4 linked regions of the Homo sapiens genome follow. The protein of the gene in region 3 interacts with the protein of the main gene of each other region in a pairwise test. Each region holds a gene or a part of one and is shown on either strand. Other genes may lie near its edges.

Region 1 (3,210 bases), on a different chromosome or scaffold from region 3:
TGCCCGCCTGGCACTTTCCCGCCTCTTTAACATCTCCTCCTCCAGCCCCTGGATCTGCTTCGGAGGCTCCTATGCCGGCTCCTTGGCCGCCTGGGCCCGGCTGAAGGTCCTGCGACTCCTCCGGGTGGGCTGGGGGGAGGGAACTCGGACTCCAGGGCCCCAGTCTCAGATAATAGGAATACCCTCCCACCACGCCCCTACCTTCCTCCCGCGCCCAAAGAATTTTGCACAAGCTGTCCTCACAAGAGCCCGAGATTACACAGCGAGTAAGTGACACAGAGGCAGAAAGATATGCGATTCCAACCCCTCAGCCCGCAGGCTGACGGCGTCTCCTCCCTTAGTTCCCCCATCTCATTTTCGCGTCGGTCGCCTCCTCCGCCCCGGTGCGGGCCGTGCTGGATTTCTCCGAGTATAATGACGTAAGGATGGCGGGCAGCAGGTGCGGGACGGGGAGGGGTCCCAGCGGGCGGAGTCCCTTGACACTTCCGGATACCTTCCTCTGCGGTCCGCCCACAGGTGGTATCCCGAAGCCTAATGAGCACCGCGATCGGCGGGTCCCTGGAGGTAGGAGGTGGGGCCTAGTCCGAGGGGGACTGGGAGGGAAAAGAGGCCTCGGATGCCAGGGAAGAGGAGGCCAGAGAAGGGCGAAACCTGCAACGTGGCGGGGTCTAAGGAAGGTCGGAGCTCGGGGGAATACGCAGGTTTTGGAAGAAGGCGGGAGCTGACGAAGAGGAGGGGCACCAGGAAAAGAGGCGCTCCCCAGAGAGGGCGGGGTTTGGGCAGGGACAATCCTATCCGGAGGTGAGGCTCAAGGTGGGGCGGGGCCACAATGGAGGACGGGGCCTGCAGGGAAGACCCGAGAAGGAGGGCTGCGAGGCAGGGGATTGGGGGCGGGGGCCTGGGGGCGGGGGCCTGGGCCAAGAGCTAGGTCTGCACCCTCTGAGTCCCGCTAGGGGAAAGTGGGGAACCCAAGGAGGACGCAGGTCCTGGGTAGGGAAAGCCGAGGCCCAGCCTAAGTCTTGGCGGACATCGCCTCTTGCTTCCCACAGTGCCGGGCGGCGGTGTCCGTCGCCTTCGCTGAAGTGGAGCGGCGGCTGCGCTCGGGTGGGGCGGCTCAAGCAGCATTGCGGACGGAGCTGAGCGCTTGCGGGCCCCTGGGCCGCGCTGAAAACCAGGCGGAGCTGTTGGGGGCGCTGCAGGCACTGGTGGGAGGTGTAGTGCAGTATGATGGGCAGACGGGAGCGCCGCTAAGCGTGCGACAGCTCTGCGGACTTCTCCTCGGGGGCGGGGGCAACCGCAGCCACTCCACGCCCTACTGCGGGCTTCGTCGGGCGGTGCAGGTGAGCACTCCCTGGCACAGCTGGGAGGAGTTAGCGGACAAAGATTCCTGCCCCACTTCCGTTGTGTGATCTTGGGCAAGCGAGAACCTTCTCTGAAACTTCGTTTTCTCATCTGTAAAATGGGGATAACACTTCACAGGGCCGATGGGAAGATGAAATGAGGCGGGTCATGTAGAGCAATCAGCTGGGAGCCTGGCACACAGTGTGCGAATGTTAGAGACTGCGATTATTACCTATTTTGCCTATCCTGTCCTGTTCTCTTTTGGGGGGCCTGCAGGAGTGCCTGGCACATGGCAAATTCTCACTTAGTATTTTTAGAATGAATGAAAAAATGTTATCTCTGGGGATAGGGTTCTCCTAGGTACCTGGGACTGCAGCCTCTAAATCCACAACTGCAATCCAGCTGTCGCTTTTCCAGCACTGTCTGGACCAAGTGCTGTATAAAGTGCTTCACATATATTATTTCATTAAGTTCTCAAGAGATAGGCACTATTATTATCGCCACTTACAGAAAAGGAAACTGAAGTCTGAAAGATTATCACTTGCCCAAGCTCTCACAGGTAATAAGGTCTCAGTCTTCTAGTGCATTGATCTCTAACTCACAAGGACCCAGGCATCCACCCCCTCTGACCACTGACTCCCAGGAGAACTCAGGAACTCACCCTTCTATTTCTGACTTTTGACCTCTGGGGACATAGGCCTCTGCACCCTGGCTTGCTGGGAAGAGAGGAGGAATTTATGTCTTATGTATGTACATTGTTCCCTAGATTGTCTTGCACAGCCTGGGCCAGAAGTGTTTAAGCTTTTCCCGAGCAGAGACAGTGGCACAGCTGAGGAGCACAGAACCTCAACTGTCTGGTGTGGGTGACCGGCAGTGGTTGTATCAGACATGTACCGAGTTCGGCTTCTGTAAGTGACTGGCCTAACCCTAACTTTGTCCCCTCAAACAACCTTTTTACTATGCCCAGAGAAGTCATCTTACAGGTGGTCTGGACTCATTTCGACCCAGCTCTCAGGCACTGTGTAACCTGCAGATGTTGGGCTGGAGAAGGTGGAAGCCATACTAGTGTATGCATGTGCTTGGCCCTCACATGCCTCCTCACGCACACACTGAGGTCTCCACTTGAGTGATCTTCCCTTCAGCCTATTCTTTCTCTGTGTCCCCATTCCAGGGATGGCCCCCTTTCCCCATCCACCAGACTAGAAACTTGAGCCTTGTTTTAGTTGCTTCCTTCCCATTTTCTAGCTAGCCTGTCAATTACTGAGTCCTCCTCACTCTGCATGGACAACTCTGTAGTCCATCCCTTGTGCTTTCTATGCCTACCTCTGCTGTCCTGCTGGGAACCTCCATTCTTTCTTGCCGGGATCCCTTCCCAGCCGCTTCTCTGGTCTCATGGTTTTCACTTCCTCTGTACAATCCAACTTTTTCATAGCATCCACAGAGATCCTTGTAAATATAACCTTGTCCCTCCTGTACTCAAAACCACAGCTCCTCAAAGACCCCAGGGTAGTGTTGCCAGATACAATACAGGATGCCCAGTTAAATTTGAATTTCAGATATACAACAGATTTTTTTTTAGTATAAGCATGTCCCAAATACTACATATGGTAAATTAAATGTTCAAATTCCAGCTCCATTTTCTACTCGTAATCTTGGGCAAACTTGGGCAAGTGACTTACTTCTCTATGCCTGTTTCCACATCTATAAAATGGGAATACAAGCAATATTTCTCTCATAGGGTTGTTTCAAGGACTAAAGGAGGTAATATTTGTAGCATTCTAAGAATAATGCAGGTCTACAGTAAGTATTCCATAAACCTCTTGCTATTGTTATTATTATAAGGCTTTACATATTTTAACCCTCTTAATA
Region 2 (3,500 bases), on a different chromosome or scaffold from region 3:
ACCAGTCTTCAACCTCAAAAGCTTCAATCTCAGGCATAGAAGACCTGTTTTAGCTGACCTAAAAACACTCCCTGAAGTCAATGATAAAGGACTGTAAATTGTAGGGCAAGTGATCTGTGAGCCCCCAAAGAAGACTAAGGTAGATGGGCTTTAGCAGGGGAAACTCCACCAAGACAGCCATTTACTGGTATCACCTCTATAGGGTAAAGATCTAGTAAGAAAATGATGTGGCCCTGGCAATATAGCAACTACAGAAGTTTGGTTTTCTTTCCCACATTCTTGTCTATTATTCTTCCCTGAGCAATACTTTCACATCACTTCTTCCTGCCCAGAACCCTTGCACCCAGGCCCCAATCCAGGCTTGTCCTTCCCTGTTCTGAAACTACTGCTCCTCCAGTCTTCTTCCCATTCCCTCGTGATACTTAACAGAATTATAGACTCAGAGTATTCAGAGACAGAGTCCACCTTCCCACCATTAGTCTCATCTGATTATCTAGAGAAAGCTTTGCTGCTGAAGCTAATTCACACGAAGGAGTAAATGCCTGATAATCCATTTTAGTGAATTACCCCTCCCAGGAACATTTGCAGTTTTAGAGTAGTTACTGAAACAGTGACTCTTTACTATAGGAATTTCGCTAGAGATTAGCAAATGAGTCAGTAATCATCAATTTTAAGTCTCTGCTTGGCTAGCCATCATGGAAAAATCGAAGAGGCATTTCCCATTTTGAAGCAGGAGGATTTCCTTGTGCCTTCAGATTACAGGAGCCTACTCTCCTCATCCATCAGGTGGCCTTGGAGTGGCATTTCCAGAAGACAGGTCAAACTGACTCAACATGCTCTCTCTTCCAAAAGAGCCTTGTTTCCAAACTAAAAATAGAACAAAAATTAAGCACATTTGTGCAAGTGAGGTTAGATCCCTTCTGTTAGGGCCTCTTTCACACTGGGACTCTCCCCACTGCAATCAGATTTCCAGCTAACAAGCCACAGGTGTACACCACACGAGCAGATGAAAATGTGATTGTAATGGGTGTGTTGACAGTTTGGTAGCCATAATCCATGCATCCCAAGGTGCACCTGTGCATCTGTCAGATAGGCACCAAAGGCTCTGCTGCCCCACCAATAGCGTGGGAGCCATCTGAGCGGCTGAGAAGCTACATCAAGGGCCCAAAACAAAGGTACTGAGGCCATGGACTCATTAGGAGCCCAAGAGAAGACACGACACACCAGGAGACATGGGAATGAATTGTTGAGAGTACTTCTCATCCTCCCTTCCCCCAGGTGTACTGTCAAGCAGCACAGTTTCCTGACCCCCAGTGGTACCTGATTATTTAAAAGCTTCTCTCCATGGCTTTCAGGGATTTGGGTATTCGATCATTGCAGCAGGGTGCACCTGTGCCTTGGCACATGCAAGCCAAGCTTCCATAAAATCCCATGAAGAGCTGAGAAATGATTTCATGTTTAGTCTTTGAAACTTTCTAAACTCCAGAAGTCTGGGACAAAGAAGTGGGGGAGAAGATGGTCCAAACAAACCATGCAGAATGGGTGTCTGCACTCCTGACCAGTGCCTCCCTTCCACAGCAATCCTGAGTACAAGGACACACCCATGGACATCGCACAGCTCCCCCATCTGCCGGAGAAAACTTCCGAATCCTCGGAGACATCCGACTCTGAGTCAGACTCTAAAGACACCTCAGGTATTACAGGTATTATTCCTTCTTTTCCATGTTCTTCAGTGAAGCTTGCCCACCACGCGCAGGGGGTGGGCAACAGCCAGAGGGCCATCATCAGAGGCAAAGCAACTGGTCACATTTCAGAGAGACATATGTCACATCAAGTTATTACTGAGTGTCTGCCTCTCTCCAGACACACATATATATAATTGTACACCACTACATACCTGTATGTACTATATAGGTATATATACACACAATACATATAGATATGTAGTGCTGGATAAATACATCTGTGTGTGTGTATATATATACATATATATATATATATGTTTTTGTGTGTATATATACTCACAGAACAAAGAGATCTTTTGAGATCTGACAGATCTCTTTCTTTAAATATACAGAAAGAGATTGATTGCTATTAGCAATCACTTAATGTCAATCCACTGGCCATACAGAAGGAGCCCTGCTCTAACCTCATAGCTAGCTCTCGGCCTCTACTAAAGGCAGGTACTAGGGCCAGCTCCAAGAGAGTCTGTGACTTTGAGCCCCAAATATTCACATTCCCACCAAGCTGGGACTGAGCCTCTAAAGTAGGGTACTTAATGGCATCGATCAATGCCTCTTTCAGGGTGCTGGACTGTTACTTATTTCCTGAATCTATGCAGAACAAACGCATGCATTTTCATTTCCTTTGGGGAAGCGGACTTCCTGAGTAGTTCTTTGGGACACTGAAAATTAGTATAAAAATTTGCTTTTCATCCCATCCCCAGCCCTCTTCCAGAGACACACATAAGGCCAGGGAGCACTAAACTTGTAGGATTTTTACAGCTGCAAGAAAATCCTACACCTCTTTTAACCCTACCTCTTCTGCTACAGAAGGGGAGGCAATGACCACAACTTCTAGTCCAGGCTGCCAGTCAGGCTTCTTCCCTCCATGTTCAGACGCTGTGTTACTGGAAAAATCTGTTCTTTCAAAAATGTGGCAGCTAGGTTTTCCTGACAACCCCCTTCTTGAGGGCACCTGTGCTCCAGCATTGTAAACATGTATCCCTTCCTCCAGACCCAGCTTCAGGGAGGCGGAAGGAGGGCAGAGCACTCAAGGCAGATCTTCATTGTCCTCCTCTCCCTAAATTGCATTAATTTGAAAGTTCTTGACAAAGACATAAAAAGTTCTAGAATTGGTAGTCTCTGCCCCTTTTTAATACAGTGCATAGTTGTGAACAAAACAAAGGAAAATTCCTAGCCCATTGAGCTTATATACTAGTGGGAAGAAGAGACAAGTAAATAAAACTAAAATATACAGTGAGGTGGCAGGGTGGCTCATGCCTGTAATCCCAGCACTTTGGGAGGCTGAGGTGGGCGCATTGCTTGAGTCCAGGAGTTTGAGAGCAGCCTGGGCAACGTGGCAAGACCCTGTCTCTACAAAAAAAAAAAAAAAAAATCAGCCACGTGTGGTGGTGGGCACCTCTGGTCTTAGCCACTCGGGAGGCTGAGGCAGAAGGATCGTTTGAGCCGGGGAGGGCAAGGTTGCAGTGAGCAGTGACCACCCTGCTGCACTCCAGCCTGAGGGACAGAGGGAGACCCTGCCAAAAATAATAATAATAAATAATAAAAATAAAGATATACAGTGAATCAGATGGTGGTAAGTGCTGTGGGGGAGAATAACTTATGGAATAGAAAGGAGAGTGGCTCTCAGTAATGAACAAATATTCACCAAGGGAAAATGCAGACTCTTTAGAAAGTCACCTTGCATGCCATCATTTTTCTGTGTCACACCTTAATCCAGGTTATTTAACCTGACTTCCTGAGTATCTTTGTGGGACT
Region 3 (2,731 bases):
GTGAAGGGCTCTTACACAATTAGTCTTCCTAAGAACAGAGCATAAATAAATGGGTTCAAATGGGCACAAAATAGAATGCACAATATCTGTTTAGATAAAAGAAAAAATTTCCACTGGCAAAAACTAAAATAACTGACTGTGGAGACTTGATCCATCTTTATTAGTAGAAAAGAGGCCCCTTGAAAGGACTGGGTATGACCAGGTTTCAGTCCTTCCAGACTCTGGATTCTGAGAGGAAGGATGGTTCCCTGGAGATCAGCATGGGTTCAGTGAGTACAAGGAATTGACATTGGATATGAAAGGGAAGAGCAAGACCTTCACTCAGATGTGGGGACAGGAAAACAAACCACAGTATAGTATAGACCACATAATAGCTGCATAATAGATAGTGATCAGTTTATGAAGATACATATTCTTAGAAGCCTGTTGAATATCAGTCTCGTTAACAAGTGACACTGTTGTACATTCTCCTGCTGGTTCTCACTGGCACAAGACAGCTTCATAGACACATACATATTGCACAAAATTCTATGACAGGTTTCCACAGGAAAAGGTTTCCACCTGGTCTCTGCTGTTTCCTACAGAAGGGGCATAAGTTCCCTGAGTCACTGTTCATTGTTACCCAGTGTGCTTCCTCTTGTGAAGGGCCATGAGCCTATCCCTTTACTTCATTGGCAAACTCCCCTGGCATCAAATGGCCTTGGTCATAGGCAAGAGTCATTTAATATGTCAGCAATTGCTGCAGCTATGGCCCCTTCCATTTGGCAACCAAACTTGAGCCTTTACAAAAATCTTCAAGGACTCAAAATGAGATGTCTTCTTTTTGAAAATATACAAACCAGAATCAGCTTGCTCATCCTCAGAGGATGTTGACTGTGGTCATTGTTCTTTCGAGAGGAGTTGTTGACTTTTCAGGGTAGCTTGCTGTTCCCCTGCCAGTACAACTTCTCTTCCACTTTTTTCTTTTTCCATCGGCAGAGAAGCAGCATCTTAAAGGTCTTCCTGAAGGTTCTGTTGCAGAGGGCATAGCAGATGGGGTTGACAGTGCTATTGACATAGCACAACCAATAGCCCAAGTGCCACAGGGTGACTGGGACACACTTGTCACAGAAGGTAGAAACCAGGACCATGATGTTATACGGGGTCCATGTGATGATGAAGGCCAGGAGAATGGCACTCAGTGTCTGGGCTGCTTTCCTCTCTTTGACTAGGACCACTCTCTTTCGTTTGGTCATTTGATGGCTGGGGTTGGGATTGAGGCCTTTCGTTGAAGGTTCCTTGGCCACTGGGAAGGGGCAGGGCATGATTTTCACCTTGTGACAGCCATTGTTGGTCTCCTGGTTCCCGTCAGCTTTTACCACCAATCGGAACTTATAGGCCACACATTTCTGACTCTTGGGTCTATGAGCAGCTGCTGGAGACAGAAGGTAGTTTGGGGTGTCATAGTCACTTTTTTCAGTTTCAGCTTTCACAAAAGTTTCCTCAGTCTCTTCAGCACTGAATTCTTCCCCTGGGCTTTCCTTACCCTGACTCTTGTAGACCACTTGGAGGACAGGGTCAGTGGCGGGCTTGTCCTCATCCTCTGAGGAAGGGTAGCTGCTACAGGTGGTGAGCTGCTCAGCTTTGGCCCAATTGGCGCTTGGGCCAGTGGCTTGGGATGGCTTCCCAGTGGTGGAGGTGCTCCTGCGGGAGGATGACCAGGAGGCCTGGTTCCTTTCCCGCTGGGCCAGGGTGGGTCGAGGACAGCGCAAGCAGGATCTGAACAGAGCCCTATGAGCTGGCTTTCTCTTCTCAGCTTTGGTCACAGAGTCAGAACCCTGGAGGTCAGCCAGGTCCTTGGTTCGCTTCTCTGTTTCCCGGTAGATTCGACAGTAGAGGATGGTCATGACAGAAACAGGGATGTAGAAGGCAGCAATGGCAGTGCCAAAAGTGATGGTGGGCTCAGAGAGAAACTGGATCTGGCACTCATCCAGTGGAACTGTCCGCTTCCCAACCAAGTACTGCCAGCAGAGGATTGCTGGGGCCCAGAGGATGAAGGAGATCAGCCAGGCCAAGCCAATCATGATGCCAGCCCTTTTCGGAGTACGCTTGGCCCGATATGTCAAGGGTCTTGTGATGGAAAAGTAACGGTCAAAACTGATCACCAGAAGGTTCATGACAGAAGCGTTGCTGGCCACGTAGTCCAGTGCAAGCCAAAGGTCACAAGCCAGACTCCCGAGAGCCCAGCGTCCCATGAGGATGTAGGTGGTGTAGAGGTTCATGGAGAAGATTCCAATGATGAGATCTGCACAGGCTAAGCTGAGCAGGTAATAGTTGTTAACTGTCTTGAGCTGGCTGTTGACTTTGAAGGAGATCATGACCAAGACATTGCCCACAATGGTGATCAGGCTTACCACAGCAGTCACAGCTGCAATGGTGATGACTTCCCACAACCTGTGGCGTTCCAAAGGCTGGTGATTTACTGGGGTGCCATTGACGGTGGTTGCATTGTGGTAAGAATCCCCTTCCATCCTGGTGCAAAAATTTTACAGTAAATAGTGTTAGGTTCTAGGCTGTTTTCTATTTCAGCTCTTCTTGGCCAGCATCTGGAAGAGAGGGAAACACATTAGCTTCGCACACCAGCATGATTTTCTTGTCCATCCATTGTTTATAGTTTTTTTTTTTTTTTTTTTTGAGACAGAATCTCGCTTTGTCACCCAGGCTGGAGTGCAGTGGTGCGATCTCAGCTCTC
Region 4 (3,932 bases), on a different chromosome or scaffold from region 3:
TCCCCCGCATGCATCCAAAAGGCTCAGCGCTGCCAAGGAGGCCAGCCCCGTGCTCTCCAAGGGGCAGAGGGTCCCAAGCTGCCAGGCTCAGGGACCGTGCATCAGAGGAGGGGGAAGTCTCCATGTGCAGGTTGTTGCCAGGAGACTCTCAAGCAACACATGGGTCCTGGGGGAATCAAGACTTCTAATTCCTCGCTCAGGTCCTCACTCAGCTTGTCCCAGGCTCACAGGCACCCATCCTGTTTGAAAGCCAAAGTTAAAAATGGCAAAGATTGTCAGTTCCAGGAATCCCGGGGCACCTATACAGATGGTTGGAGCAGGTCCTCCATATCCTCGAAGACTTGAAATGCTCTGTGGTCCTCACTGCCAAGTCAGGCCATACCCAAGGACCGTCTCATCCCTTCACTTGAATGGCCGTTTGGGGGGCGGGAGGATTTCCACCCCTCATCTCTCAGAGTACCCCGGAGTAGAGAGATCTAAAGGATGAAGGGAGAAGGTCAGGAATGGAAGTGGTAGTGAAGGGATACCTTCTGTGTCTCTAGAAAGACCCTTCCCCACGGGGAGGTGGCAAGAGCCAGCTGTGAGCCTGAGGTTAGTCCGGCGGCGCTCTAAGGAACACCACCTCCACCCTCCTTCCCTTTCTCGGACATGGGCAGCCCCACAGGTGCACGTGGGAAGAGCTACTGGTTTGTGTGTGTCTGTGTGTGTGTGCTTGGTGCGTCGCACCCCAGAAGCGCCGCCGCGGGGAGTCCCCGAGGAACCTGCAGGACGCTCCGCTGCCTCTCCTCCCGGAACGCTCGGCACGCTCAGGTTACAGCCTGCGAGGGTGGGTACAGGGGCTCGACCCCCGAGGTTCAAGCTCAGAGCGGGAGAACCACTGGCACTCGCTCAAATCCCCAGAGGTGGTAGCATGAAAGGATGGGGAGTGGGTCACAAAAATACTTTTAACAATATCAGGGCTACCAGGAGAGTGGAGCGTAGTCCGCTGATTATTCTGTGGGTCTTTTCAGGCGAGCAAGGAGTTAACCTCGGAAGTTCAGGGATCGTAAAGGTTCTCACCTGGAAGGCCCCTCACCTGCGGTGCCCGAGGCGGATCCCGCCGAGGAAAAGACCCGGGGAAGAAGAGCTCCGGGTCTGGGCGAGCCCCTGGCGCCTCACGGGCGCTGTTGTTGGCCAGACTCCGACAACCAATAAGGCCCCGCGCCCCCAAGAGGGGAGGGGAGAGCGAGCAAGCAGCGAGCGCGGGAGAGCTAAGGGGAACAACATTTTTGTAAACGCTCTCCGAGATAATTAAGCTATCAATTACCCGGGTGGGAAATCAGCTGCGCTTCCCACAGCTCCACTGAAGGGCCGACTCCTCCGGGATTCGCGCAGGGAACCAGCAGGCAGCAAGCTGCTGGCGAACTTTTCTGATTAACTTTTCCGTTGGAGCCCCCCACCCACACCCATCTCCTCTCCTCTCCTTTTTCTTGCCTTTAAGTAATTATTATTAGCCCAGGGAGTGAGCTGCAAGGACAAACCGGCTCTCTGCCTGGAGGTGGGTAGAAAGGGAAGGCGGTAACGGGGGTAGAGGGAGGCTCTAAACGTGGAGACCTCGGAGTCGGAATCCCAGTTCTCAGCAACCACTCAAGTCTCTCCAGCCCTATTTCACAGATGGCCAGAACTGAGGCTCAGAGAAGGGAAGCGACTTGGCCAAGGTCACTCAGCCCATGCGGAAGCCACGCTTTTGCGGGTTGAGCGATTCCACACGGAACTACTCCATTCCTACTCTCATGAAAATCCATCTGGAAGGGCAGAACCCGCAACTCCGAGGCGAGAGCGAGGGGGCGGTGACGGCGGGTGGCCAGTGACGGTACCCGGAGAAGTGGGAGGCTCGACCTGAAACTGGCTTAGGATCTGGGATGCTCCGGCCCCTAGCCAGAGCACCTTCAGTGAATGGGGTCTCCGGCTTCCGGGATGGATCAAGCAGAGCTCCAGGTCGGGACTGAGAGGCAGAGGGGCAGGTTCCCACTGCGGGAGGGTTGGCACGCCCCCAGGCTCCCGCCGCGCGCTCTCCAGGACCTCCTCCCACATGCTCGTTTCCAACCACCTGTGCGACCTCTGGGCCCCTCCTCTACCCTCTGCCAACCCCACTCGGGGCAGCCCCGGGCAGGGATCCCCAGGGCGCCCCCACCCGTCCGGCATGACGCAGGGGCTCGGGGTTCCTTGGGATCTAGCGCGTGCCGGCGCCCAGCCTTACCCAGGGTGAAGAAGGGCAGCTCGGTGTTGTCCAGGTCGTCCTGCACCGCGATGCGCCCCGGCAGCTCGTTACGCACAAAGAGCAGGAGGCGCGACTCGGCGGCGGTGCCGGCAGAGCCAGGAGAGCCCGGGGACGCGGCGGCGGCGGCGGCTCCGGCCCCGGTCCCAGCCCCGGCCCCGGCGCGGGCGCCGCTCCAGCCGATGTCGCTCTCCCGCAGGGCGGGCAGTGTGGACACCGTGACGGTCTTCAGCCGGCACGGGCTGTCGGGCTCCCGCGAGGCAGCGGCGGTGGCGCCGGCCAGCAGCGGCGGCGGCGGCAGCAGGAGCAGGAACAGCAGCAGCAGCGGCAGCAGTGGCGGCGGCCCCGGGTGGAAGCAGAGCCTCGGCCGCCCCCGGAGCCCCGAGCCGGGGCCGGGGCTGAGCCGGGCGCCGGCGGCGGCCATGGCGGGAGGGGCTGCGGTGCTGCGGGCGGCGGCGGCGGTGGCGGCGGTGGCGAAGGAGGAAGAGGAGGCAGCTGCGGAGACGGCGGACGCCGAAGCGAACCAGGACGCCCGAGCTAAGGAGCGGAGAGAGCCGCTCGCCAGCAGCCCCCAGCTCCGGGCTCCGCCTCCCGATCGGCCCTGGACCGCCCCCCCGCGCCGCCTCCCGGGGCCCAGCCGCCCGTCCCCGATCTCCGGCTCCCCCCGCAGACCCCGAGCGTTTCGGAGGCTCCGCCCGGCCTCGTGCAAGTCCCAGTGGCTCCCTCCCCTTTCCCAAGATCCCCCAATTCCGCCCTCACAGCATTCTTTAGCCACAACACCCCTCCCTAAACTCCCCAAATTCCTAATACTTAGGGCCCCCTCGGGCCCCCCCAAGCCCCCCTGACTCAACCCAGTTCTCCTGGCTTCACCCCACCTTCGGCTCAACCCAGAGGCTGCACCTGGGGGCGCGCCTTGGCCCAGCCTTGCTCAAGGCCCCGCCTTCTTGGGGATAGGGAGCCCCCTGGATAGCCAAGACTTAACTTTGTCTCCCCTCAGGCCCAAGAACAAGTCCTTTCTCCAATCTCCTACCCTTTTCTAGTCTCTGAAATAACTTCCTGTAGCCTCAGAGCCCCCTTCCCACCCACTTGGCCACAACTCCTGCATTCATTCTCCCACTGCCCGCAAACCTTCCTCTCCCCTCCATCCAGGCCTTGTGCTAGCACTAATTGCTAATGGACAGAGGGGCGTCGAACTCCACCGTCTAACGCCGACCCCACAACTGACTGAAGCCGGGCTGTTCTGGCCCCCTAGCTGCCGCCCTGCAAGCCAGCCCACTCACGCTTTTTTATTTTGGATCCCTGCTCCCAGCTTGGAGCAGCTCTACTTGGCTGCTTCTGCTCTCTGTGTGAAATTCCTGAAAAGGGTGTGAGGTAGAGACCTACTATTCTGTCTGTCCTTGGCTCCCGGGTCTTTTAGATCCTCTGCCCAAGTCCCAGAGAACGGGAGTGCTCACCAATTCTTCACCTGCAGTCTTTCTAGACTCAAGTTGAGCTAGGTCCTCAGATTCAGCACCCTTTGGTCTTGGGCTGACTCTGTCTCTGACCCACATACCTGAGACCCTCCAGGGAGCGGACACCTCTGCATGGGTCAAGTGCCGTGCAGCCCCTTCCCCACTCCCCTACTTTTCTTCATCTTCCCTGTCTCTGTTTTCTGTTTCATCTCTCCATTCATTTC

What was found. Proteins that work in one complex are often made in the same cells at the same time.
Region 1: the proteins of CHRM5 (region 3) and PRSS16 interact in a two-hybrid assay, tested with the Homo sapiens proteins (one large-scale study listed by BioGRID and IntAct).
Region 2: the proteins of CHRM5 (region 3) and NPAS3 interact in a two-hybrid assay, tested with the Homo sapiens proteins (one large-scale study listed by BioGRID and IntAct).
Region 4: the proteins of CHRM5 (region 3) and ASTN2 interact in a two-hybrid assay, tested with the Homo sapiens proteins (one large-scale study listed by BioGRID and IntAct).

The regions. Positions count from the first base shown.
Region 1 is NC_000006.12:27,250,701-27,253,910, forward strand, and holds part of PRSS16 (thymus-specific serine protease), read left to right. Parts: coding exon 1-106; intron 107-341; coding exon 342-419; intron 420-516; coding exon 517-564; intron 565-1,049; coding exon 1,050-1,340; intron 1,341-2,107; coding exon 2,108-2,249; intron 2,250-3,210. UniProt on the Homo sapiens protein: Protease that may play a role in T-cell development.
Region 2 is NC_000014.9:33,795,879-33,799,378, forward strand, and holds part of NPAS3 (neuronal PAS domain-containing protein 3), read left to right. Parts: intron 1-1,578; coding exon 1,579-1,703; intron 1,704-3,500.
Region 3 is NC_000015.10:34,062,497-34,065,227, reverse strand, and holds part of CHRM5 (muscarinic acetylcholine receptor M5), read right to left. Parts: intron 2,586-2,731; 5' UTR 2,511-2,585; coding exon 912-2,510; 3' UTR 1-911. UniProt on the Homo sapiens protein: The muscarinic acetylcholine receptor mediates various cellular responses, including inhibition of adenylate cyclase, breakdown of phosphoinositides and modulation of potassium channels through the action of G proteins.
Region 4 is NC_000009.12:117,412,258-117,416,189, forward strand, and holds the start of ASTN2 (astrotactin-2 isoform g precursor), read right to left. Parts: upstream 2,801-3,932; 5' UTR 2,682-2,800; coding exon 2,240-2,681; intron 1-2,239. UniProt on the Homo sapiens protein: Mediates recycling of the neuronal cell adhesion molecule ASTN1 to the anterior pole of the cell membrane in migrating neurons. Promotes ASTN1 internalization and intracellular transport of endocytosed ASTN1.